3 separate regions of the Homo sapiens genome follow, and all the other regions are linked to region 1. Evidence: fine-mapped expression QTL. A gene starts in region 1. Each other region holds a variant in brackets. All regions are shown on one strand. Distances are from middle to middle. Region 1 holds the start of SPATA6 (spermatogenesis associated 6). Region 2 has its middle 31 kb from the start of SLC5A9. Region 3 overlaps AGBL4 (AGBL carboxypeptidase 4).

What was found. PIP is the estimated chance that this variant, and not a neighbour inherited with it, causes the effect.
Region 2: its variant is fine-mapped to the expression of SPATA6 in whole blood (INTERVAL, PIP 0.99).
Region 3: its variant is fine-mapped to the expression of SPATA6 in whole blood (TOPMed, PIP 0.96).

What each region holds. Positions count from the first base shown.
Region 1 is chr1:48,467,490-48,475,672 of GRCh38, reverse strand. It overlaps SPATA6 (spermatogenesis associated 6), which reads left to right and starts at 3,469. Exons shown (of 13, transcript NM_019073.4): 1 at 3,469-3,715. The coding sequence starts at 3,665. It overlaps LOC124904175 (a long non-coding RNA gene), which reads right to left and starts at 5,303. Exons shown (of 2, transcript XR_007066074.1): 1 at 4,721-5,303. RefSeq lists an enhancer at 3,138-3,187 and a silencer at 3,398-3,787.
Region 2 is chr1:48,187,851-48,196,033 of GRCh38, reverse strand. No RefSeq gene overlaps it. Among named protein-coding and RNA genes, the nearest start is that of SLC5A9, 31 kb to the left of the region's middle. The variant T/A (reference allele first, on the strand shown) is at 5,067.
Region 3 is chr1:48,612,674-48,620,856 of GRCh38, reverse strand. All of the region lies in intron 9 of AGBL4 (AGBL carboxypeptidase 4), which reads left to right. Among named protein-coding and RNA genes, the nearest start is that of SPATA6, 140 kb to the right of the region's middle. The variant A/G (reference allele first, on the strand shown) is at 3,458.

The sequences.
Region 1 (8,183 bases):
AATCTAGGTGGAGGTTCCTAAACCCCAGTTCTTGACTCTGTGTACTTGCAGGCTCAACACCATGTGGAAGCTGCCAAGGCTTGGGGATTGCATCCCCTGAAGCCACAGCCCTATCTCTATGTTGGCCCCTTACAGCCATGGCTGGAGCAGCTGGGACGCAGGGCACCAAGTCCCTAGGCTGCACACAGCATGGGGACCCTGGGCCTAGCGCATGACACCATTTTCTCCTAGGCCTCGGGGCCTGTGATGGGAGAGGCTGCCGTGAAGCCCTCTGACATGGCCTGGAGACATTTTTTCCATGGTCTGGGGGATTAACATTTGGCTCCCCATTACTTGTGCAAATTTCTGCAGCCAACTTGAATTTCTCCTCAGAAAATGGGTTTTCCATTTCTATCGCATTATCAGGCTGCAAATTTTCCAAACTTTTATGCTATTCTTCCCTTATAATACTGAATGCCTTTAACAGCACCCAAGTCACATCTTGAATGATTTGTTGCTTAGAATTTTTTTCTGCCAGATACCCTAAATCACCTCTCTCAAGTTCAAAGTTCCACAAATGTCTAGGGCAGGGGCCAAATGCCCCCAGTCTCTTTGCTAAAACATAACAAGAGTCACTTTTGCTTCAGTTGCCAATAAGTTCCTCATCTCCACCTAAGACCACTTCAGCCTGGACCTTATTGTCCATGTGGCTATCAGGCTTTTGGCCAAAGCCATTCAACAAGTCCCTAGGAAGTTCCAAAGTTTCCCACATTTTCCTGTCTTCTGAGCCCTCCAAATTGTTCCAACCTCTCCCTGTTACCCAGTTCCAAAGTCGCTTCCACATTTTCGGATATCTTTTCAGCAACACCCACTCTACTGATACCAATTTACTGTATTAGCTCATTTTCATGTTGCTGATAAAGACACACCCAAGACTGGAAAGGAAAAAAGGTTTAATTGGACTTGCAGTTCCACAGGGAGGGGAGGCCTCGGAATCATGCCAGGAGGCAAAAGGCACTTCTTACATGTGGCAGAAAGAGAAAACAAGAAGATACAAAAGCGGAAACCCCTGATAAAACCATCAGATCTTGTGAGACTTATTCACTACCATGAGAACAGTATGGGGGAAACCACCCCCAAGACTCAAATTATTTCCCACCAGGTCCCTCCCACAACACATGGGAATTATGGGAGTACAATTCAAGATGAGATTTGGGTGGGGACACAGCCAAACCATATCACTGGGTAAGCAGAGGTTGCTGTGGGCCGAGATTGTGCTAGTGCACTCCAGAGCCTGGGTGACGGGTAAAACCCTGTCAAAAACAAAACAAAACAAAAAACACCCAAAAAACCCCAAAACAAAACAAAATCCTGGGCAAAGTTCATAAAAATACCATAAAGAGAGAAGATTTTTGTAGTGTCTTAGAATTAATTTATTAACTAACCAGAATACACAAAATTCCTAAAAAAAAGACAAAAATCCTGATAGAATATGGGGTAAAGCATTATGAGCAGATGATTTTTAGTAAAGATAGAAAATCTTATAAGCATATACAGACATGCTCAGACTCATCAGTAATCTGAAAAATTCAATAGTGAGATAACACTTTACATCTGTTATGTTGGGGGAAAACAAGAACCCTTGATAATGCCAAGCCTGGGAAGAATGTGGGGCCATAGTAACCTTCGAATATTGGGAGCATAGACTGGTATGGCATTCTGGATAGCAACTTGGAATTATATGGTCAAACTGAGAATACTCATACTCCATGACAACAATTTATCTTCTGTTCATCACAGACTATATGTAAAATTAAAATACAAACACAAAGTGGAAAGGATATTTGCAACATATAGAGTAGACATATAATTATTATCCAGAGTATATAAAGAACTGAGAGAGAGACCAACAGAAAAGGGGGCAAGATAACTACTTGGCAGTTCAATAAGAGATAATGGAAAGGCTAACAAAACCAAAGGTACTCAACCTCAACAGTACCCAGAGATTCAAGATAAAACCACAATGAAATACCTAAAATACACACATCCAAATATACAAAAGTTAAAAATCCAAACACAAATGTTGCTGATGATGTGGAAAAATAAGAACTCTTATACATAAGCACCAGAAACATAAATAGGTACACTACTTTGGAAAATGGTGTGGTCTTACTTTTTAAAGACCCACATGTGCAAAACCCTAATACCCAGCTAACCCACTCCTACGCTAGTACATGTGCATTAATAGACACAGACTTGTACTACAATGTTCACAACATTGTTAATAATAGCTAAAAATGAAAACAGTGTAAGTGATCATTGATAGTAGGAAGGATAAATCAATCTATATTGGAATACTGTCCAGCAATGGAAAAAACTTCAGCTACACAGCATCACCGGTGGCATAATATTAAGTGGGAGAAGCAAATCACAGAAGAATACATACAGTATTAATACCATTTATATACTATCAATACCGGAAAACATTAAACAATATCTTGTTTAGAAATGCATACATGAATGGCAAAAGGAAGAGAATTATTGTACAAAAGTCAGGGTAGTGGTTACTCCAGGGCGAGAAAGGCAATGTAATCGTTGGGGGCATTTTTCAGGTGCTGGTAATGTTTTATTTCTTAACCGGGTGCTAGTTGTACAGGTACTGTTCACATTATTATTAAGATAAACGTGTTTTATACACTTCTGCATGTATAATGTATTTTGCAATACAAATGATTTTTAACATGATTGGATTGGGCAATCTCTTAGGTTCTTTTTATCTTTGATGGTCTATTGTCAGGCCCTTCACAGCTGGACTTATTGTTGGCACCTCATTGACAGTTCCACTTAAGCAATATGCATTAAGACGCATACATGGGTGAATTAGACAGGAAAATTTGAAGGGAAAAGGGAACGCGCTAACAAAGGGAATCACAGAATAGGAGACTAGGAGTATGGACCATCTGATGCAAGCCCCTCTCCTCAGGGAGGCAACTGGGGTTTAACTTGAGAGCTCCTGGGTTCCAGTCCTGGTTCCGACTTTGATTTGGGCAAGTCTCTTCCCTAATTCCCAGTATCCTTATGCTGGCTTTGTAAACCGTGCCGTGAAATTTAAATAGGAGGACTAACAATAATTATTATTCTTTTACAATTGGGAAAACTGAGGCCACAGTGGGTCGCCACTAGCCCAAGGTGCCATCACCACGTTGTAACTCAGGGGTTCCCTCCGACGGCCTTACAGGAACTCCAACTCCCTGAACAGAGCACCGTCCCATTATACAAACAGCAGCTCCCTTTCGTCCGGCTTTGGGCGCAGTTTGACGTCACAGAAGAGCTGCCTTGCCTCACCCCGCCCCTTCGGAAGCCCCGCCCCCTGCCCGACTCCGCCTCGCTCGGCGTTCGTCAAGCTCCGCCTCCAGCGCTCGTCCCAGCGCGGGTAGCCCTGGAGTGCCCCGCGCGGCCTCTCTTCCGGCCCCGCCCCTCCTGGCTGCCATGACAACGAGTCTGCGCCCCGCGCTCAGCTGCTTCTCCGGCGGAACCCAGGCTGGACCGCGGGCCCCGGCCTGGGGGCCACTGCTGCCACCGCCGCCGCCACCTCGTCTCCTCCCCGTCCCCGCCCAGCCCCAGGTCTCCCCGCCTCACTCGGGCCCGTGGCCGGGGTCACTCCCCGCCGCCCCTCCCCGCACGGATGCCGAAGGTGAAGGCGCTGCAGTGCGCCCTGGCGCTGGAGATCAGCTCAGTGAGTACCGGTAGCGCCTCCCACCCCCGGGCATTGGCTCAGGGACTCCCTCAGTCACCTCCGAGAGCCCGGAACCACCCCCAAACCTCCTTCACCCTCCGAATCATCCCTAGGGAGCGTCGACCTCACGCCCCTTCGGTCCTGCCCCATCTTGTTCTCAGAAGCGCTCTCCCACTCCGGCCACGCAGAGGCCTGACCCCTGCTCCGCTATGCTGGCTTCAACCCGACTTCCAACTTGCGCGCTTTCAGATCGTTCCCAAATCACTTCAGAGTTCTTTCCTCGCTCCTAACTTTCCAGTGAGAGAGAGTGTATGTGCGCGGCGCGGGGGCTTTTCATTCCTCTTTCGGGCTCCAGTTCTCTTAGAGAATTATTGCCCCCGCCTTTCCCAAGTCTGGGGGTGGGCGTCGCATTTCCTCCCGAATCCCTGCAGGCACACCATTTCAGACCAGTTTCAAACCCGCATTAATGAAGGGGCCTTTCTTTATTCTGTCTTCGAAGGAGAATCTTCACATCCAACAACTGAAATGTGTCATTGCGCAAAGTACCTTGCCTTCCCTCCCAGGGCCTTACAGGAAAAACCCAACTCCTCAGAAATCACTTCAGGCCCCTCCCGTCCCCAGACCCTTCCGACTTTGTGCCAGCCATTGCAAGAAAGGCCCAGTCATTTTTATGAGGGAAACACCTCCTTCTCCAACCTTGCAACCCCACCCCTTCACTCTCCAGACTTGCTCAAGAGGATGCTTTCCTCCATCCTCCTGTGGAAGTCCAGCTGGGGCAGAGAACCCCACTCATCCAGTGAAGGGGCTGGACCTCTCCATGCTAGGAGAAAACTCTATTCCCCTTGTTGATCTCAGAAGACTTCCAAGGGTTTTGAACTTCTTCCCCTGCATTCTTTAGAGAACCCTCTCATTCCCCTGTTTAGAGGAATACTCCCGCTTGTCTGTTCTGGAGGAAATCTCCACAAGACCCTTTCCACACCCCGTTTTAGTCCTGCAGGCACAGACCTGTACGGAGTTTGGAACCAAAATTCACCATTCGGTCTCTTCGCTCCTTCTTACTCAGTAAGTCTTCTTATGTATATTGCCTTCTGTTTGATCTCCTAGGAAAACTTGGGGGTTGAGAGTGCTGAAATATTACCATTACTCTCCTGGGTGCTGCAGCCAGGAGCCCTCTGCATTTCCTTCCTGTACACCCTACTGGCCAGGCTCCACTTAACCCGTGCTTGCAGCTTCCCGCCTTTCCTGGCTGGCCTTCGTCACGTTAGAATGAGGTTGCTGCAGCACAGAACTTAAACCCCTAGGAAAATCACAGGACTGTTTTAGGTCTTTTGTTAGGTCTTAAAGAAGGCAAGTGTGCGTGGGGCAGAGTGTGAGGCAGTGGTGGTGAAGTAGAAATTTTCTTGGACTCTCCCTTTATCTTCAAGCCTGCAGAGATTTTTCTCGGAAACTCCATAGCCCTAGCTTTGCTTGTTTTCCTCCCAAAGCTGCCATTTTTGACAACTTTTTGTAAAGTAAAATTAGTTTAGCAAGAAGAATGCACGAAACTTTCTCGATCCCTTGGCCCAGGACACAAGTTAGTGAAACTCCTTCAGAGTTCAGCCTTAATAGATTTTGTTACTGGCTTCTTCCTCCTCCTGCCAACTAATGGTGTTTAGCAGTCTGGTGAGCGCAGCTGCCTGACTGGCTGGCTGCAGCTTCCCTAACGTTGCCAATACAAACTTTCTAAGAGGAAGTACTCTGTTGTAACTGATTACTGCTTGAAGGAGTCGGAGGAATAGCTACATTTCTCCTGAGTATTAGTTGTATTGCAGAAAAGTGAATGACTGTGTAATTCACTGTATAACGGAGCTTTGTTACTTATCAGAGCTAAAGAAAACTATGATGGTGGAAATAATATTTTTCCCCAACAAACATTTAAGTCACAGAATTTTATAGTTCCGAGACATCTTAGATGGAAATCATTGGATTCAATCCCTTTTTACAGCCAAGAAAATCGATGCTCAGCATGGCTATTATTTATCTAGGATTGCACAACTGTTTAGAAGCAGATGTGCAAAATGTTCCCGAATTTTTGAACAACAAAAGCCTTTTAAAATGGCTCTGATGCTCAGAAGGAGCAAACAAACAACGCCCCTGACCGCCCCCCCCACAAAAAAAACCCCACTAGCAGACGTAAAAGTTAAACATGTTTGATTGATTGATTAATTTGGCTTTGATTGAATAGAAAGGTTATATGACCCTAGATATTTTTAACATCTTCATTTTGATTTTAGTTCCTTTCTTGTCTATTTCCTTTTTACATTTACATGGTTCAAGTTCAAGACTATAACATGATATACTCAGAGAAGTGTTGCTTCCAGGCTCAAAACTATTTCCCACCTATACTCATCTGCTTTAACCATTTTCACTGGTTTTGATATAAACAGATACACAAACTCTCTCTCACATACCACACAACATATATATATATATATATATATATATAAATAGATATTTGTTTTTATGAAATAGGTAGCGTATAAACTATTCTGTACCTTTGCTTTTCTTCGTTCAGTATGTCCTGGAGATCACTCTGTATCTATTAAAACTGGCATCTTTCTCCCCAACTTTTTAAATGAAATTTTTCAAACATACAGAGTACTTAGAAGAATAGTTCAATGAATAACTGTAACCCATGACCATGTACATTAATTTGATTTGTCTATATGTATGTGTATGTTTATGTATAAATTTTTTATTTTTTTGCTAAAAATTGAAAATAAATTGACATAATGATACTCCACCTGTAAGTACTTCAGCATGTGTCTTCTAAAAATAAGGATATTAGCTGGGTATGATGACAGGCACCTGTAGTTCCAGCTACTCAGGGGACTGAGGCAGGAGGATTACCTGAGCCCAGGAGTTTGAAGCTGTAGTATGCTGTGAGCACACCTGTGAGTAGCCCTGCACTCCAGCCTGGGCAACACAGTGAGACCCTGTCTCTTAAATAAATACATACGTAAATAAAATTAAAAAATAAGGAGATTGTTCTGTATAACCCCAACACCATTATTACACCTAAGATAATTGGTGAGAAATTCTTAATATTTAGTTCATATTCAAGTTTTTCTGGTTGTCCCAAACATGAGTTCCATAGTTAACTTTTTCAAACCGGGATCCAGTCAAGGTTTATATATTACCTTTAATCATTTGATTGATAGGTCTTTGTAGTTCATTTTAATATAGAGCAGTTCTATTTTTTTTTTATTCCCACAATGTTCCTTTTTTTTCCTCAGTTGGTTTTGGTCAATTCATACACTCATGTCACCATCACCCAGATCAAGATTTGGAACACTTCCATCACCCCTCGCAATTCCCTTGTTCCCCTTTCAGGTCCATTCCAGACAGAACTGCTTTCCAGAGAGAAATAAGTATAGGAGATGATGGAAATGTTAATTAGCTTGAATTAATCATTTCACAGTGTACATACCTGTAGCAAAACATCACTTTGTACAGTGTAAATATATGTAAGTTTTGACAAAAAAGAATGGATAAATATATTGTAGTATACACATACAATAGAATACTACTCCACAATTCAAAGGTACTACTGATAGAACCAACAACATGGATGAATCTCAAGAACATGCTGAGCAAAAGAAGTCAGATACTAAATATCACATACTATGTGGCTCCAATGTGAAGTTTAAGTACTGGCAAAGTAATCCATAGTGATAGAAATCGGAATAGTGTACACACACACCCCCTCACACACACACCTACCACATTTTCTTTATCCATTCATTCGTTGATGGACACTTAGGTTGCTTCCATATCATGAGTATGGTGAATAATGCAGCAATGAATATGAGAGTGCAGATCTCTTCCATATACTAATTTCCTTTGGATACATACCCAGAAGTGAGATTGCTGGATTATATGGTAGTTCTATTTTTTAATTATTTGAGGAAATTTTTCTTTTTTTAAATTATTTGAGGAAATATGCTTTTTGTAATGGCTCTTCTAATTTACATTTCTACCAACGGTGTACAAGGGTTCCCCTTTCTCCACATTCTTTCCAACACTTACAATTTTTTGAATTTATTATAGTAGTCGTTCTAACATGTGCGAGGGCATATCTTATTATATTTTTGATTTGCATTTCCCTGATGATTAGAGATGGTAAGCACCTTTTCATACACCTGTTGGCCATTTGAGATATCTAGTCAGACCTCTTGCCCATTTTTAAAATTAGGTTTTTTGTTTTCTTGCTATTGAGTTTGGGTCCTTACATATTTTGGATATTAACCGCTTATCAGATTTTCTCCATTCTGTATGTTTACTGTTAGTGGTTTCCTTTGCTGTGTAGAAGCTTTTTACTCTGATGCTATCCATTCTCTTGTTGATGGTTGTTTGGGTTGTTGCCAGGTTATGGTTATTATTGGATAATACTATTATGAATATTCATTCTTGTAAAAATCTTTTTGTG
Region 2 (8,183 bases), 280 kb after region 1:
GACAAAAGGGTTTGAACTAGGAGCTGTAAGTTGTGGAGAAGTCACTAGGAGATATATGGTGGTGGTGGGGCAGGGAATAAAACTAGTGGAAGATAAGGGTTATTTTAGTATGTTTGTTTGTACAGATCCATTTCGGCATTGATTCCCAGTCTCTGGTGATAAGGGTATTCTTCTCTTCCTGGCACAGGGAGGGAATCTTTCTCATGGAAAATTCTGTGGCTTGTTTTCAGTAGAAAAGGAGCCGTTAGATGACTCTTCCTGCATCTGCTGTTTCTCAAGTGTCATCAGCTGGAAATAATTAATATGTCAAAGCGGCATATTTTGGCGTGGCTTGTCCTTAGCTCTTTCACCTGTCGTATCTCATGTGACTTTAAACCGTGTTAAACCATGGTGCTGTGGAATAGCCTCGTGAAAGCGGAATAGAGCTGTACTGAAAGGTTGCTGTTTTCCTATTATTGATGGGGATAGCCACGGATTCTTCTCTTGGGAGTCAAGCAACCCACACAGACCGTGTGCCCCCAACTGCCTTTGGGCATATGCCATCAGGGAGAATCCCTGGTGGTGCAAGAATTCCAGTGCTGGAATGGGAAGGTTTGCTTAATTCCTGGATTTAGTATTCAGAAGCTGACTTGCTCATAGATACTGCACACACTTCCCAATATCAGAGTTTTGTTCTTTAATAAAAGTAATATTTTGATCTCCTGCTTTACTATATAGTTTTATTTTCTCAATTAATTCAAAACTTAGACTGAAAGAAAAGGGGAGCTATAATTTTTGCCCCTTTGGAGCTCCAACAAAATATACAAATTTAAAAATAAATGATGGGACAGAAATACACTGGAAACCTGTAAATCTATTAAAATTATGTTTTTGAAGACCAACAATAAAACAGGTTCATAATGTATTCTGGAGTGTAAAAAAAGAGAATAGAATTATAGTGTTTGTCAAGCATTCCAAAAATGTGTTCCCTGTATCAATATTATCAGCACTACGTGGGAACTTGTTAGCAAGTTCTTGCACTCCACCTAGAGCTACTGAGTCAGACACTCTGGAGTGTTGCCAGTGGTTTGTCTTTAAAAAAACCCTGCAGGTAATTCTCATGAACGGTAAAGTTTTGGAATTCTTCAATTTTTAGCACACACACAATACTGGATGGAAATATACCAAAATGTTAATACTAATATTATTTGAAAGGTGAGGCTACAGTTGTGTGCATGATTCAGTATAAGTTAATATTAAAATAAATTATTTCATTTCCAGAGGTTTTTGGTGGATTCCTCGGCTTACCTCCCATCAATAAATCCAAAAGAGAACAGTAATTCTTCTTGTCATTTTGTAAGTTATCACCATTTATTTATCAAGCCCAAGCAAGATTACATATATTTGTGGTTTATGAGAGTAGGTCATTTTTCCATTTAAGACTTTTTTTTTTGTTTTGAAATAATTATACATTCACAGGAAATTGCAAAGATACAACTGAAAGCAATTGACTTTGGTATCCTAAACCTTTCTATAACTACTTATCAATTTCACGAGGGTTTTGTTTGTTCGTTTTGAGATTCCTTGGGATTTTCTGTAGAAAGAATCATATCATCTACAAAGGCAGTTTTTTTTTCTTTGACTTCAAGTTTTTTTTTTTTTAACTTCTATTTTAGGTGCCGGTTTGTTATGTAGGTAAACTCGTGTAACAGGGGTTTGTTGTACAGATTATTTCATCACCCAGGTATTAAACCTAGTACACATATAGTTATCTTTTCTGCTCCTCTTCCTCCTCCCCACCCTTCACCCTCGAACAGACCCCAGTGTCTGTTGTTCCCTTCTTTGTGTTCATGAGTTTTCATCATTTAACTTCCACTTATAAGTGAGCACATTCGATATTATTTTTTCTGTTTCTGTGTTAGTTTGCTAAGGATAATAGCCCCAGCTCCCACAACAGCTCATGTTCCCACAAAGCACATGATCTTGTTCTTTTTTATGACTGCATAGCATTCCATGGTATATACGTACCACATTTTCTTCATCCAATCTGTCATTGATGGGCATTTAGGTTGATTCCACGTCTTTGCTGTTGTGAACAGTGCTGCAATGAACATTTGCATGCATGTATCTTTATGGTAGAATGATTCATATTCCTCCATGTATATATCTAGTAATGAGACTGCTGGGTCAGATGGTAGTTCTGTTTCAGCTCTTTGAGAAATCACCATACTGCTTTCCACATTGGTTGAACTAATTTGCATTCCCACCAACAATGTATAAGTATTCCCTTTTCCCCACTACCTCTCTAGCACCTATTATTTTTTGACCTTTATAGCCATTCTGACTGGTGTAAGATGGTATCTCACTGTGGTTTTGCTTTGCACTTCTCTAATGATCAGTGATATTGAGCTTCTTTTTTCATAAGCTTGTTGGCTATGTGTGTTTGTCATCTTTTGAAAAATGTCTGTTTATGTCTTTTGCTTACTTTTTAATGGGGTTGCTTATTTTTTTTCTTGTAAATTTGTTTAAGCTCCTTATAGATGCAGGATATTAGACCTTTGTTGGATGCATAGTTTGCAGATATTTTCTCCTCTTCTGTAGGCTATTTATTCTATTGATAGTTTCTTTTGCTGTGCAGAAACTCTTAAGTTTAATTAGATCCCATTTGTTAATGTCTGCTTTTGTTGTGATTGCTTTTGGTGTCTTTGTCATAAAATCTTTGCCTGTTCCTTTTTTTTTTTTTTTTTTTTCCAAGGCAGAAGAATTTTTCTTAGTGCAGAACAAAATGAAAAGTCTCCCATGTCTACTTCTTTCTACACAGACACGGCAACCATCCGATTTCTCAATCTTTTCCCCACCTTTCCCGCCTTTCTATTCCACAAAGCCGCCATTGTCATCCTGGCCCGTTCTCAATGAGCTGTTGGGCACACCTCCCAGACGGGGTGGTGGCCGGGCAGAGGGGCTCCTCACTTCCCAGTAGGGGCTGCCGGGCAGAGGCGCCCCTCACCTCCCGGACGGGGTGGCTGGCCGGGCAGGGGGCTGACCCCCCCACCTCCCTCCAGGACAGGGCGGCTGGCCGGGCAGAGGGGCTCCTCACTTCCCAGTAGGGGCGGCCGGGCAGAGGCGCCCCTCACCTCCCAGACAGGGTGGCTGGCCGGGCGGGGGGCTGACCCCCCCACCTCCCTCCCGGACGGGGCGGCTGGCCGGGCGGGGGGCTGACCCCCCCACCTCCCTCCCCGACGGGGCGGCTGGCTGGGCAGAGGGGCTCCTCACTTCCCAGTAGGGGCGGCCGGGCAGAGGCACCCCTCACCTCCCGGACGGGGCGGCTGGCTGGGCGGGGGGGCTGACCCCCCACACCTCCCTCCCGGACGGGGCGGCTGGCCGGGCGGGGGGCTGACCCCCCCCACCTCCCTCCCAGACGGGGTGGCTGCCGGGCGGAGACGCTCCTCAGTTCCCAGATGGGGTGGCTGCCGGGCGGAGACGCTCCTCACTTCCCAGATGGGGTGGCCCCCGGGCAGAGGGGCTCCTCACTTCTCAGACGGGGTGGTTGCCAGGCAGAGGGTCTCCTCACTTCTCAGACGGGGCGGCCGGGCAGAGACGCTCCTCACCTCCCAGACGGGGTCGCGGCCGGGCAGAGGCGCTCCTCACATCCCAGATGGGGCGGCGGGGCAGAGGCGCTCCCCACATCTCAGACGATGGGCGGCCGGGCAGAGACGCTCCTCACCTCCTAGATGTGATGGCGGCCGGGAAGAGGCGCTCCTCACTTCCTAGATGGGATGGCGGCCGGGCGGAGACGCTCCTCACTTTCCAGACTAGGCAGCCAGGCAGAGGGGCTCCTCACATCCCAGACGATGGGCGGCCAGGCAGAGACACTCCTCACTTCCCAGACGGGGTGGTGGCCGGGCAGAGGCTGCAATCTCGGCACTTTGGGAGGCCAAGGCAGGCGGCTGGGAGGTGTAGGTTGTAGCGAGCCGAGATCACGCCACTGCACTCCAGCCTGGGCACCATTGAGCACTGAGTGAATGAGACTCCGTCTGCAATCGCGGCACCTCGAGAGGCCGAGGCTGGCGGATCACTCGCGGTTAGGGGCTGGAGACCAGCCCGGCCAACACAGCGAAACCCCGTCTCCACCAAAACCAGTCAGGCGTGGCGGCGTGTGCCTGCAATGGCAGGCACTCGGCAGGCTGAGGCAGGAGAATCAGGCAGGGAGGTTGCAGTGAGCCGAGATGGCAGCAGTACTGTCCAGCTTCGGCTCCGCATGAGAGGGAGACCGTGGAAAGAGAGGGAGACCGTGGGGAGAGGGAGAGGGACAGGGAGAGGGAGAGGGAGAGGGAGAGGGAGAGGTGAATCTCTGCCCGTTCCTATTTCGAGGATGGTATCACCTATGTTGTCTTCCAGAATTTTTATAGTTTGAGCCTTACATTTAAGTCTGCCAGAATTGTCAAGTGACCATCAGATGATAGTCATGGGGGATGTTAAATTTTCTCTCTAAAGTAGTAATTGGTCACCACTCGACTGGCGGGGGAAAAATGAAAAATACCTCAGATGAGCAGGTGCACAACTTCAGTAAACACACTGCACATGTGGCCACTTCCAAGTGCTAGCAGGTCACTGCACATACAGACAGTCTACCCCAAGGGAAGAATTGGGGTAGAAGAGATGAAAAACCTGGAAGCATGCCAACAGATAAAGCCTCAAGTCAAAGGTCAAACAGCACACTTGGATATCTCCAATCACCTGCTTGGCCCTCTTCCAAATGTACTTTACTTGCTTTCACTGCTGCTCCAATAATTTTTCATAAACTTTCACTCCTGCTCTGGTCTTTCATTCTGCCTATAATCCTTGGGTGAATTATTTCCTTCAAGGAGGCAAGAATCGAGTTGCTGCTGACTTGTATGTCTTTGCCACTGCTAACATACTTCAGTGCCATGACTCACATACGTTCCCTAGTGGTAAGATACCTCTATGCCTTTCCTTCTTGGGCTGGAGGTATTCAACCTCCTTATGTGGTTTCCTTCTCCCCTTTTGCTCTCCTGCTTACTAAGCAACGCCCAGAATGATTCCTCCCCTGATTCTTCCCTTGGGGC[T/A]AACAGTGGCTCTGCTCCCCACAGCTGATCTCTCATCTCACACTGATGAGTGGCTTGTGGAGGTGGAAAAGACCTTGAAGTCCACATCAAACAGATCTGAGCCACTAATAGCCCTTCTGGACAGGAGGCTCGAGAGAGTGGTAGGGCTAAAGCCTAGGATGGTGCCATGTCTGGGGCTTCCTCTGCGTTTGAAATGAAAATGAGGTCTTTCCGCAAAACCCACACTGCCTACTCTCCTGTTTTCTCGGTGTGTATTCTGAAATGGCCTTGCACACCCACTGGACAGTCTGTCTCAAAGGCAAGTATGTCTCTTCTCTGCTTTCACTTCACATGCCATAAGACTTCCTTCTCTGCCTTAAACACACACTCCCTATTATTCATACACCTGTGGCTCTTGCTGCATTTGTGCAGCTGCAAGGAAACAGGCTCCCCTGTGGATGTCTTTTGGCTTATTGCTGGGACAGACAGTAATTAGAACCATGGCTCTGCCAGCTTCTTATGACTTACCCTATGTTTTTTGTCCCTGTTATGCTCCATAGCCAAGTTTTTCAGTGGCTCTTGAAGCAATTTGTTCACCTGCAGAGGGCTTCCCTCTATGGCCCTTTAAGGACCCCATCTACTTGCTTTTTATGAGTTAGCACCCATTTGGTAGGAGGGAAAATTCTTCCTTTGCATTTGTGAGCCCTTATCCCAAGCCCCACATCTTGCAGAATTTCTCATTTATGTCAAAAGGGCAAATAAATGTTGCCATCTCAAATCCAAGGGCTGTCGTTTTTGCAAGCACATGAAGCCTTTCCTTGAGTATCCCCCTTCTTCCTCCAGCTTCCTCCTATAGTAATAGGATGGTCCTGTCTGCTCAAGTATTTTTTCTGCACATTACCCTGGGAGGATGAGGAACCCAAAATACAAAATTTCCTCCATTCCTCTAATCATCTTCATGCCCTTCTTAGTATACCTCAAGACTTTTAAGGTCATATTTGAAGGGAGGTAAGTCCAGCCCTCTTGCAGAAATTAGCTAAAAAATAGGCTTCTCATATATTTAAAAAGCATGGGGAAATGTGATTATAAGAAAAGAGATAATCATTTTGTTGCCAGAATGCCCCAAGCTAGAGTCACTATAAGGTCATGGAGACAAGGATATAGGCCAGCCCAAGGCTGCAGATGCAAGAGACAGACGTGCCCATAGGACAGAGAGATGAAGGCTGACCCCAGGGCAGATTACCAATAGAACAGAGAGGAAGGCAAGGTTAGGGGTACCCATAAGACTGGTTAATTTCAGAACCCTGGAAATGAATAGGATCCCTGTGTTTACCCTAGTATCTCCTCTGTTCTCAAGAGGGTAATTGTGATGAGATGAGACCAAGACCAAGGTTAAGGGTACCTGGTGAGACTGGTTCATTCCAGAACCCTATGGACAAATGGGCGATGACCTGTTCAGGAAAGGATAATAGGGAAATAAGAGGAGACACATTCTTTCCTTTTTTATTTTCTGTTCCCTTTTCACAGATGGGTAATTGCATCTCTATACCACAGGACATGCCCCTCAGATCCATCCTTAACAAAGGGGAGGCAATTACAAAAGTCAGCTTAGAACCCAGTGCCTCATGCAGGAAAACCTCAAATTAGCCTCCTCAGTCTTTTCTAATTGACAGTGGAATAAGGAGGACAGGGGTAAGGAAAAGGGAAAATGCAAGAACAAGAGGCAGGCTCAACTATTGGCTGCTCTACAAGCCCTGCAGCCTCCCCCCAGGTTGTCGTCAGAATATACTCCCAGGTTCCTGCCATCAGTGTGGGAAGCCAGGGCACTGGAAGGCAAACTGTCCCAATAGGATAAATGGGAAAAAGCCCTGCACAGCTTGCTTCCTCTGTCACAAGCTTGGCCACTGGTAATGGGACTTCCCTGGGTTCCAAAGGGCCCCTGGGACAGAATCCCAACCCATCATGGTGGTCTTGAGCTGAAGAGGCTCACTACTCTGATTGGCTTACAAATGAGACATCATCATCAACAAGATGAAGCCAAGGGCAACTCTGGAGTTGAAAAGTAAAATTATAAATCCCTCTTAGGTCCAAGAGCTGCCTACTTCACTAATCTCCTTCTCTGAACAACTCTCCCACAAATCCTGTTGGGTAATGGGGGCAAATGACACCTCCTCTCTCCAAAAGAAAAGATCCACACCCCTTTATATAACTTAAGGGACCAATTACAATTCTTCCACGAGTCCCTGGTAATGTCTAAATACTCAATACCTCTTTGGGGCAAAAATATACTTTCCAAAATGAGTGCCTGCTTAATATTTACTCAACCTCTAAATTCACCTTTCTTTCTAATAGCCCTATTTCTCCTGGGGTAAGCTACAAAAATATTTAACCAATAAGTTCAACCTGGACAGTCTTACCTTAGTGGTTTAGAATAGTCCATACTTATTTGGACAAGCCCTAGGGAAATCTAACCAAGCAATCTCTTGAGGGAGGATAACTTATACATACATAGATAACCTCTTTATCTACTCCCCTGTCACAAGACTCACACAGCAACACATAGTACAAACATAACTTCCCAACAAAGGGAAAATGACTTTTGTCTAATTCAGAAGTTATAAAGAGGTATTTTTCTTGGTAAGGAAGGTTATAAAGAAAATATTTTGTCTAAAAAAGGATATTGTATGGTAAATTCTTGTCCTTAAGTAAAATGACTAGTCATTTAAAAAGAGGGATGTTTAGGATATGTCAGAAAGCTTAAGCATGTTGTAGATGGTCTATGTAAGTCATGAAAAGAATTGTGAAAAGAAATTTATAAAAATGCACAATTTTACAGGCTATTAGGCCTAATAAATCCTTCATAAACTGCTACTGTGACTCTTAACTGTACAATTTGCCTGTTTTAAAGCCATTAAATTATATGTAAGGACTGGGGACAAAAGGAGTTAGCCATGCCCCTTACCTATGCTGGAACAAGTCAAACTTCTATTCTGTTTTGACATTTCTACTTGGTTTAAAACCCAAGGAGCCTTCTCTATTTGTGGCCAATCCTTTCACCAATGCCTCCTCACTAACTGGTCTAGGACTTGTATCACAGGCTATCTATCCCCTGACATCTACATAGCCCCTGGCAATCTC
Region 3 (8,183 bases), 150 kb before region 1:
GTGAGGATTAAAAAAACACCACATACACACACAAAAACCCACTAAGCACTTATATAGTGTGGTCTTTTGTAAGGCTGGTAAATTGTAAGCACTCAATAAATGTTAGCATTTATTATCAGCTCAAACCTAGTAATATACAATAGCTACTATTTCAATGTTGATTTCACAAAGGAATCTTCTGAATAATATTTCATTATCACCAATTATCACCATCTTTAAACTTAAGCATTTTAAAAACAGCTGTAGCTCTGGTTATTGAAATAGCAATGCAAGTAGGTTTTAAAAGACAGACTGGGCCAGGCATGGTGGCTCTTGCCTATAATCCCAGCACTTTGGGAGACCCAAGCAGGAGGATTGCTTGAGGCCAGGAGTTCAAGACAGAGAGAGCCTCCATCTCTACAAAAAAAATTTTAAAAGCCGAGCATGATGGTGCGCACCTGTAGTCCTAGATACTAGGGAGGCTTAGGCAGGAGGATTGCTTGAGCTCAGTGGGGATTGTTTGAGGCTACAGTGAACTATGATCATGCCACTGAACTTCAGCCTGGGAGACAGAGTGAGACCCTGTCTCTTAAAAAATATTTAAATACGTAAATAAATAAGGACAGATTAGAAGCAAGTTTGAGCCATTAGCTCAAATGCTCTGGCCACTCCCCATCCCCATCTTTGCAAAGTCTTTTTACAGCTGTGCTAATATCTTTAATTGGGTTACAATCAGCCCAGTTCCAGAAGCTTTTCTTTCATAGGGTTTCCTGCATTTGTCGGTTTCAATTCATTCCGAGTGGATTTTACGGTTTAACCTTCGGAGGGCAAGCCGATTTCCTTCATTCCGAGAGTTTGGGTATGTGTGCATGTGTGTTTTGGGGGCAATTCACCATAATCCCTAAGGGCTGACGACAGCCAGGATGCTTCTAGAATGAATTATCAGTAAATGCGATACTCTAGATCCCCCAAGGGCGATTCCAGACACCAGGAGAGGCTTGGGGCGGGGCTTCTCTCACAGAGGCTGGAGGCGGAGTTTGTACGCTGATTGGCAGCTAAGGCCACTGTACACAGCAGCCCCCACCGGCTGATCCTACAGGGCACTTCAAGGGCAAAGCTTTGCTTTAAACTCCTGGCACCACCTATGCAGACTCAGCAGTCGGGAGGATTGACTTACTCAGGCTCCCAGTTACAAGAGGAAAACTTCTTTCCTCTTAGAGTTTAGCTCCAGGCTATAACCTTGAAAAAGCCTCCAACTGCTAAGGCGAATCTTTATTAGTCATCTTTGCTATGTGACTCGGCCTCCTGGCATGGGTGGGGTGAATGAAAGCAGGGCTTCAGGACCCTGCAGAGCGGAAGGGGGAAAATGCTGATATTTGTTAAGCATCCATTAAGTGCCAGGCACTGTTTCATCTAGTCCATATAACAACCTCTAGAAATGAGCATTATTATCCCCATTTCTAAGGTGAGAAAACTAAGGCTCGGCGTGAATGTCCCTCCCCTAACCGTAATCTCTCCTGCTGCACACATTTATGACTCCACACCACACTAATCTGTTTACGTGCTTGTTTTCTCTCCTCAAATGTGGACTCCCTGAGGGATGAAACTCTTGTTTCCGTCACCTCTGCACTCTCTTGCACAGAGCATAGCGCCTAATACATCAGTAAAATGCCAGATGAATGGCAGAACAAATGAAAAGCAGTTGAAACCTGCAAGGTCACACAACTGGTAGTCAAAGGACTTGAAGTGGAAGCCAGATCTGCCTGATCCCAAGGCCCACGACCCTAGTGCAGAGCAGGGTGGGCATGCTCACCAGGGGCCCAGCAGCAGCCAGAGGCCCCTTGTTTCTCAGAGTCTCTTGTTTTAGCTTTAAAATGCATGGAAGCAGCCAACCTAGAAAGGAGAAATTCTATTGATTTCCCGTTTTTTTTTTTCTTGGTATAATGACATCTTTTAAGCACAAAAATTCAGAATTACCCCCATTATCTTTTGGTTAACATGATATTATAAATAGATTTATTCCATTACCTTGGGCACCCCACTCCTCCCCCGACCACTGTAAGAAACGTTGGTTCGAAAAGTCCAGAATGAACTCCAAAGATTGAGCATGCTAGGTAAATTAGGATCTGGGATCTTAAGAGGGGCTGGCTAATACTAACACAGGCAAGAGGTTTTGACCTTAGGATGTCTCCTGTTCCTCCACAGGTTGTTGCCATAGCCTGAGGATGTACACATCCCCAACTTGGCTACTTTTGACCTTGGATTAATAATGTAATTCTGGCCTTCTAGGATCTCAGAGATCATTTTGCCCTATGTGGAGCCAGAAAACTTCAGAGCTGGATGAACTAAAGAGGTGCTCCAAACTAACCCTTCATATAGAGAGAACACTTCAGCCCAGGGCAGGGCAATGGCTTGCTCCAGGTCACACAGTGGGACTGTAGTACTATAGAATTGTTAATCAAACTCAGGTTCCCAGGATTTCTACCAAACTTGGAGCACATGCACTCCAGGCCCCGGGGATGAATCACTAGCACGTGGGTCTTGTCATAACTATTTTCACTAATTTGTCACAGAGATGTATAGTTTTCAGAGCACATTCACATACAAGCATTCACTTGACCCTTTATTGCAACGTTGTGAGACAGGGATTATTGTTTTGTTTCGTTTTGTTTTAAGAGACAAGGTCCCACTATCTTGCCTGGGCTGGTCTCAAACTCCTAAGCTCAAGCGATCTTCCCATCTCAGCCTTCCAAAGTGCTAGGATTACAGGTGTGAGCTACCATGGCTGGCCTATTGTTTTGTTTTACAGATGGGGAAACTAAGACCTAAAGTTATTAAGTAACTTTCCCAAGAGACAGAGTCAGTATTGAATCTCGGTTCTTCTGACTCTAGGTGGCCCAGAGGTGAGCACACCCACTGATAAGTCAGAGGCAGAGAGGAACAGGAGTGGCAAGGTAGAGTCTCATCTCTTGCTTTTCCCTCTTTTACCTTTTTAAAAAAGCACCTGGACTCGGGTCCCCTCTCAGACCACCATACCTTTCCCAGATGTCTCTGAGGGAATGAAGGGTAGAGCAGAGCAAGGTGTAAGAGAAGCAGAGGGTACTCAAGGGTCCAAGCCATGGTCATGGCCGGCCCAAGGGCCGCCCCAAGGCAGAAGTGGCAGACGGAAGGCCACAGTAAGTCAAATTCTGAGAAACAACGGCCAGCCCGTAGGACAGAAAAAAGGTAGAGAGAATCCCCATGGGCATATGGTAGGAGGGATGCAGTTAAAACAAGAGCCATCACATGAACAGAAGCACGTAGGAAGAGAATAGCAGGAAGGAGGCGGGTCTGCATAGTTTAGAGAGTCCCTTTGGGGAAGGAATGGATTAAAAAAAGAAAAGTGGTCAGATTCTAAAGGACCTCAGAATACCAGACTGAGAGATTTGAATTTCATCATTTTGGCCAAAGGCAACTGTTAGAGGTTTGTGGGCAGGAA[A/G]AGGGCAGACTGACAAGCATTAGCTCTGATTATGCAATCAGCACCAGTGTTTAGACCTCAAAACAGTGACCCCTTTAATCTGACAGTCTGCTTTGGTATAATTTGTTAAAAATGACAAAATGTCTCATTTTGCTGCGGTTCATTTTGACCTTTTTTAATATTAGAAAGTTAATTTCAGAAGGGAAATAAATATATTAGTGTTGTCACAGTCATAAAAAGATGAATTCTCTTCTGTCAAGCTATTTCTTTGAATGAATCCATCATGCTGTGCAATGGTTGCTTTCTAACACTCAGCATCTTCTCAGCTCCCCCCTCCCTCCTTTTCTCCCTCCTTTCTTCCTTTCTTTCTTCTCTCTCCCCATCCCTCACTCCTTCCATCTGCCAACACATCTACTATGATGTGCTTTGGGGGTAGAGAGATAAAAGAAATGGTCCCTGCTCTGAAGCAACACTCACTCTAGTGGGAAAGGCAGAAAAGAAACCAGCCGTTGGAGGTGTGTCTAAATGCCACAAGAGGAAAGAACGAAGGACCCAGGGAGCATGTAGAGGAGCTGTTTATCCTGCAGAGGCAAAGGCCTCCTTTAAAGTTGGAAACTATGCCCTGTAGTAGGACTTGGGTTATGACTTTTGTGAAGGAGAAAAGACACTAAGGATTCTGAAGCTTTGGGTTCTACTCCCATCTCTGGTAATTAGACAGTAATTACTAGGGACAGAGCACCCAGACCATGGTAAGGATTTCACACACATTATCTCACTTAATGCTCACACCTTTATCAAAGTAGTCTTATTTTTCCCATTTTTTCAAAAGAGGAATATGAAGCTCGGGGGATGAAGTAATTTGGCCCAATTGGGTTGTAAACCTTATACATAGAGTTGACTCCAGAATCAGGGTGGCTTGCAGTGCGCTGTGCTTCATCTCCAGCTAGCTATAGAGAATTGTACTTTACTATTATGAACTATTCTGTACCAATTATGCTTACTGGTTGTATAACCTTAGAAAACCCTGTTCTTTTCTCACTCTGGATCTCAGTTTCTCATTTGTTCAATGGAGAGGTTATACGAGCTCTGAACGTCTCTGGTTGTAGAGGCCTCCTGGAATCTGAGGGCATGGTGTAACCTGGTGCGTCTCAAATTTTAATGCACAGGAAACACTTGGATATCTTATTAAAATTCAAGTTCTGATCAGTAGGTCTGGAGTGAGGTTCTGAGAATCTGCATTTCTGACAAGCTGCCAGGGCATGCTGATATTGCCAGTTCAAGTACCCTGCTATGATTTGAACGTATGTGCCCCTCCAAAATCCATATGCTGAAACTGAATCCCCAGTGCAATTGTATTGAGAGGTGGGCCCTTTAGGAGGTGATCAGATCATGAGGGCCCCTCCCTCATGGATGGGGTCAGTGCTTTATAAAAGGGAACTAGCAAGAACATTTTGCCCTTTCACCCTTTCATTACTTCCACCATGTGAGAACACACCTTTCAAGGCCCCATCATGGAAGCAAATGCCAGGTCCTCACCAGACACTGAACTGCTGGTGCCTTGATCTTGGACTTCCCACCTCAAGAACTGTGAGAAATAAATTTATATTATTTATAAATCACCCAGCCTCAGGTATTTTATCATAGCAGCACAAACAAACTGAGACCCCATTTTGAGTAGCAACGGTGTAACCGATGGCAGAAGCAAACTTTTGGGTCCAGGGTAGAACTACCGAGGATGTAAGATTTAAGATTGTTGAAATAAATGCAAATAGGAAAAGCAATCTTACTCAGATCTGGTCAGCAAATAGAGTTCTGGGTTCATTTTCTTACCTGGAAATTTTACTTTCTTGGGTTTAAAAGCAGTGATTCTCTTAAGAGATTAAAGGGAAGAAAACTGAACTTTTAAGGTTTTGAAGAACTTTTTATACTGAGATCACATCTGTTTTAATTCAAGTTTCAATCTGGTGTTTCCCCTGTAGCTCAGATTTCTATCTCAGGCAGGTGCAACAACTACTCTCCTATGGGGAGGAGGCTATCTCCTTTCCCTCCCTACATCTTGGTAAGATGCAGCTTCCTTCCCAAGATGCACCAGCACAGCCACAACTTTTTAAAGCATAATTGCCTAAAGGCTTTCAGGGCTTCCCAGTCATACAGGGGTAAGACTTCCCAGTTTGGTATTCAAAGATTCAGACTCATCTCTCTACATTCCTTTGCTTAAAACCTTTACTTTTATCCTAATATGCCTGTTCCTCTCCCAGAAGGACTTCTGGCCTGCCCACATTCATATTGCCACTCCTGTTGCATTCCTACCCATCCCTGCACTTGCACCCCCACAAACTCCCCTCTGATTGGACTTTTACCCCTCCCCTCTTATTCTCTAGCCCTCAGAATTCCATATGGCCTTCAGATGTTCATGCCATTGCTTCCAGAAAGCCTTCTGTCATTGTCACAGCTGTAAATGAGCACATAGTATAGGCTTATACATTTTGTATATCATTTATTTTCTAAGAATAACCATATCATCCCCATTTTATATATGAACAATAAGAGACATTGGGAATCCAACCTAGATCTATTGAACTCTGAAGTCTTGATTTCTTCTCTCCTTCTTTACCCTCCCCCCATACTTTGTTTGTATGTCTCTTGTATTATAATCACATATTTCTTTGTTTTAGAGTTATTTTTCTCTTTTGCTGAGAGGAGAATGTAGTTTTGTTGGGTTAAGAAGGTGAGGTAGATAGAACAACCTAAAAGACTGCTGGATGTTAAAAGTGAGGGGGAAGGCTGCAAGGGTAATGCAAACTGGGGGATAAGGGGCATATTTGCCCACATCTTTTCAATGGAAAAGCGACAAGAGAGCCCTTTGCAGTGTGCAGGCACCTTCTCTAGATTATCCTCATTTGATTCTCAAGATCACCTTCTTTGGGCTACACTTTGATGTATTCCTATGATCAGCCTCAATACTACTGGGTCCTATTCAAGTTAGTTAGGATTAATGAGTTAGATGCAATCAAATCACAGACCCTTGGAGCCAGAAGGAAAGTGAGAGATTCTTGCTCAGCCTCTTCATTTTACAAATGAGAAAACTTATGCTAGAAGGAAAATGACTTCCCCAAGGTCATTGGTGATTTGGTGGCAGAGATTCATTTGGCATTTATTACCTTTTTTTTCCTTAGCATCTTCCATTTCTGAACAAGGTGCTTCTGGGTGAATGTGTATTTTAGTTGATGCCAACAGTTCTGTGTGCAGCAGAAGAATAAGAAATAAACCTCAATTCTTTGACTCACCCTTGTTTCTCTGTCAACAAAGTGGGTTTCTACCAGTTTTCTTTTCATCAGAGGGTGACCTTGGAAATCTAAACCTTTGACACCTGGTTTTTCCTCTTGTGCCTTATGCTTTCCAACTCTTTCTCTAATTATTTCTTATGTATTTAGTAGTTAAAATTAAAATGCCCACTAACACAGCCATTTATCTCATGGCCTTAACTCATAATTATTGCACAACTGGAGGCAACCTTGAGAATGGGAAAAATGAAGAATACATTTCTGCACGAAACTGTGCTGTATTATTGTGGTTAGCTTTCGCTGTGAATACAACCCCAATATCTTGGTAGGTTACCACAGCAAACATTTATTTCATGTCCATGCTCTATAAGGGCTGTAAGTGAGCCAGCCACAGCTCTGCTGGCTGTGCTCAGCTGTATGTATCCCTCATCTAGGGCCCAGGCTAAAGGTGTCACCCCTATCTGGGACCTGCTGTTTTATGGCAGAGAACAGGAACACAATCTCATTTAAAGCTTCCACACAGAGATGGCAAATATCATGACTGCTCACATTCCGTTAGCCAAAGCGTGTCCTCAAGCCAAGGCCAAAGTCAGTGAGATGGTGGGTATATATACTCTTCTTAGATTCTTAGGCAAACAAAAATGACAATAGGAGATTTCTTATTACAGGGAGGGAAGAATAGTTAGGAACAATGATCTAATCAACCAAAATTACTTTATTGCTGAATCAGAATATGAGTTTAGGGAAATCATTTGCCCTCGTTGGACCCCAGTTTCTGATTGTTTAAAATGAGAAACTTTGCCTCTTTAGGGAAGCAAATTAATATTCTGAAAAAATTAGATATATCTAAGTTCAAATTCCAGTTGCACCACAGACTAGCTGTGTGATCTTAGGTAAGTTATTTAACCTCTCTCATTTCTTCATTTTTCTTCAAAAATTCAAACTATAGTTTTAAAAAACACACATACCTCTTAAAGTGTCTCATAATCTCTCTTTTTTTTTTGAGGCGGAGTATTGCTCTCTCGCCCAGGCTGGAGTCCAATGGTGCAATCTCGGTTCACTGCAACCTCCGCCTCCTTAGTTCAAGAAATTCTCCTGCCTCAGCCTCCCGAGTAGCTGGGACTACAGGTGCCCACCACCTTGCCTGCTTAATTTTTGTATTTTTAGTAGAGATGGGGTTTTGCCACGTTGGTCAGGCTGGTCTTGAACTCCTGACCTCAGGTGATCCGCCCGCCTTGGCCTCCCAAAGTGCTGGGATTACAGGCGTGAGCCATCGTGCCTGGCCCTCATTTTGTTTTTAACCCTAGAAATATCTTTTAGGGGAAAAAAAAGTCTCTTGTGAGAAAACATTTTTTAAAGATGTAATTCATTTAAGTTCTTTTAAACTTAAGAAAAACTGAATTCAACACCTCTTTTAATACAAATATTTATAGTGTATTTCTGTTTTTTAAAAGCACTTTTAT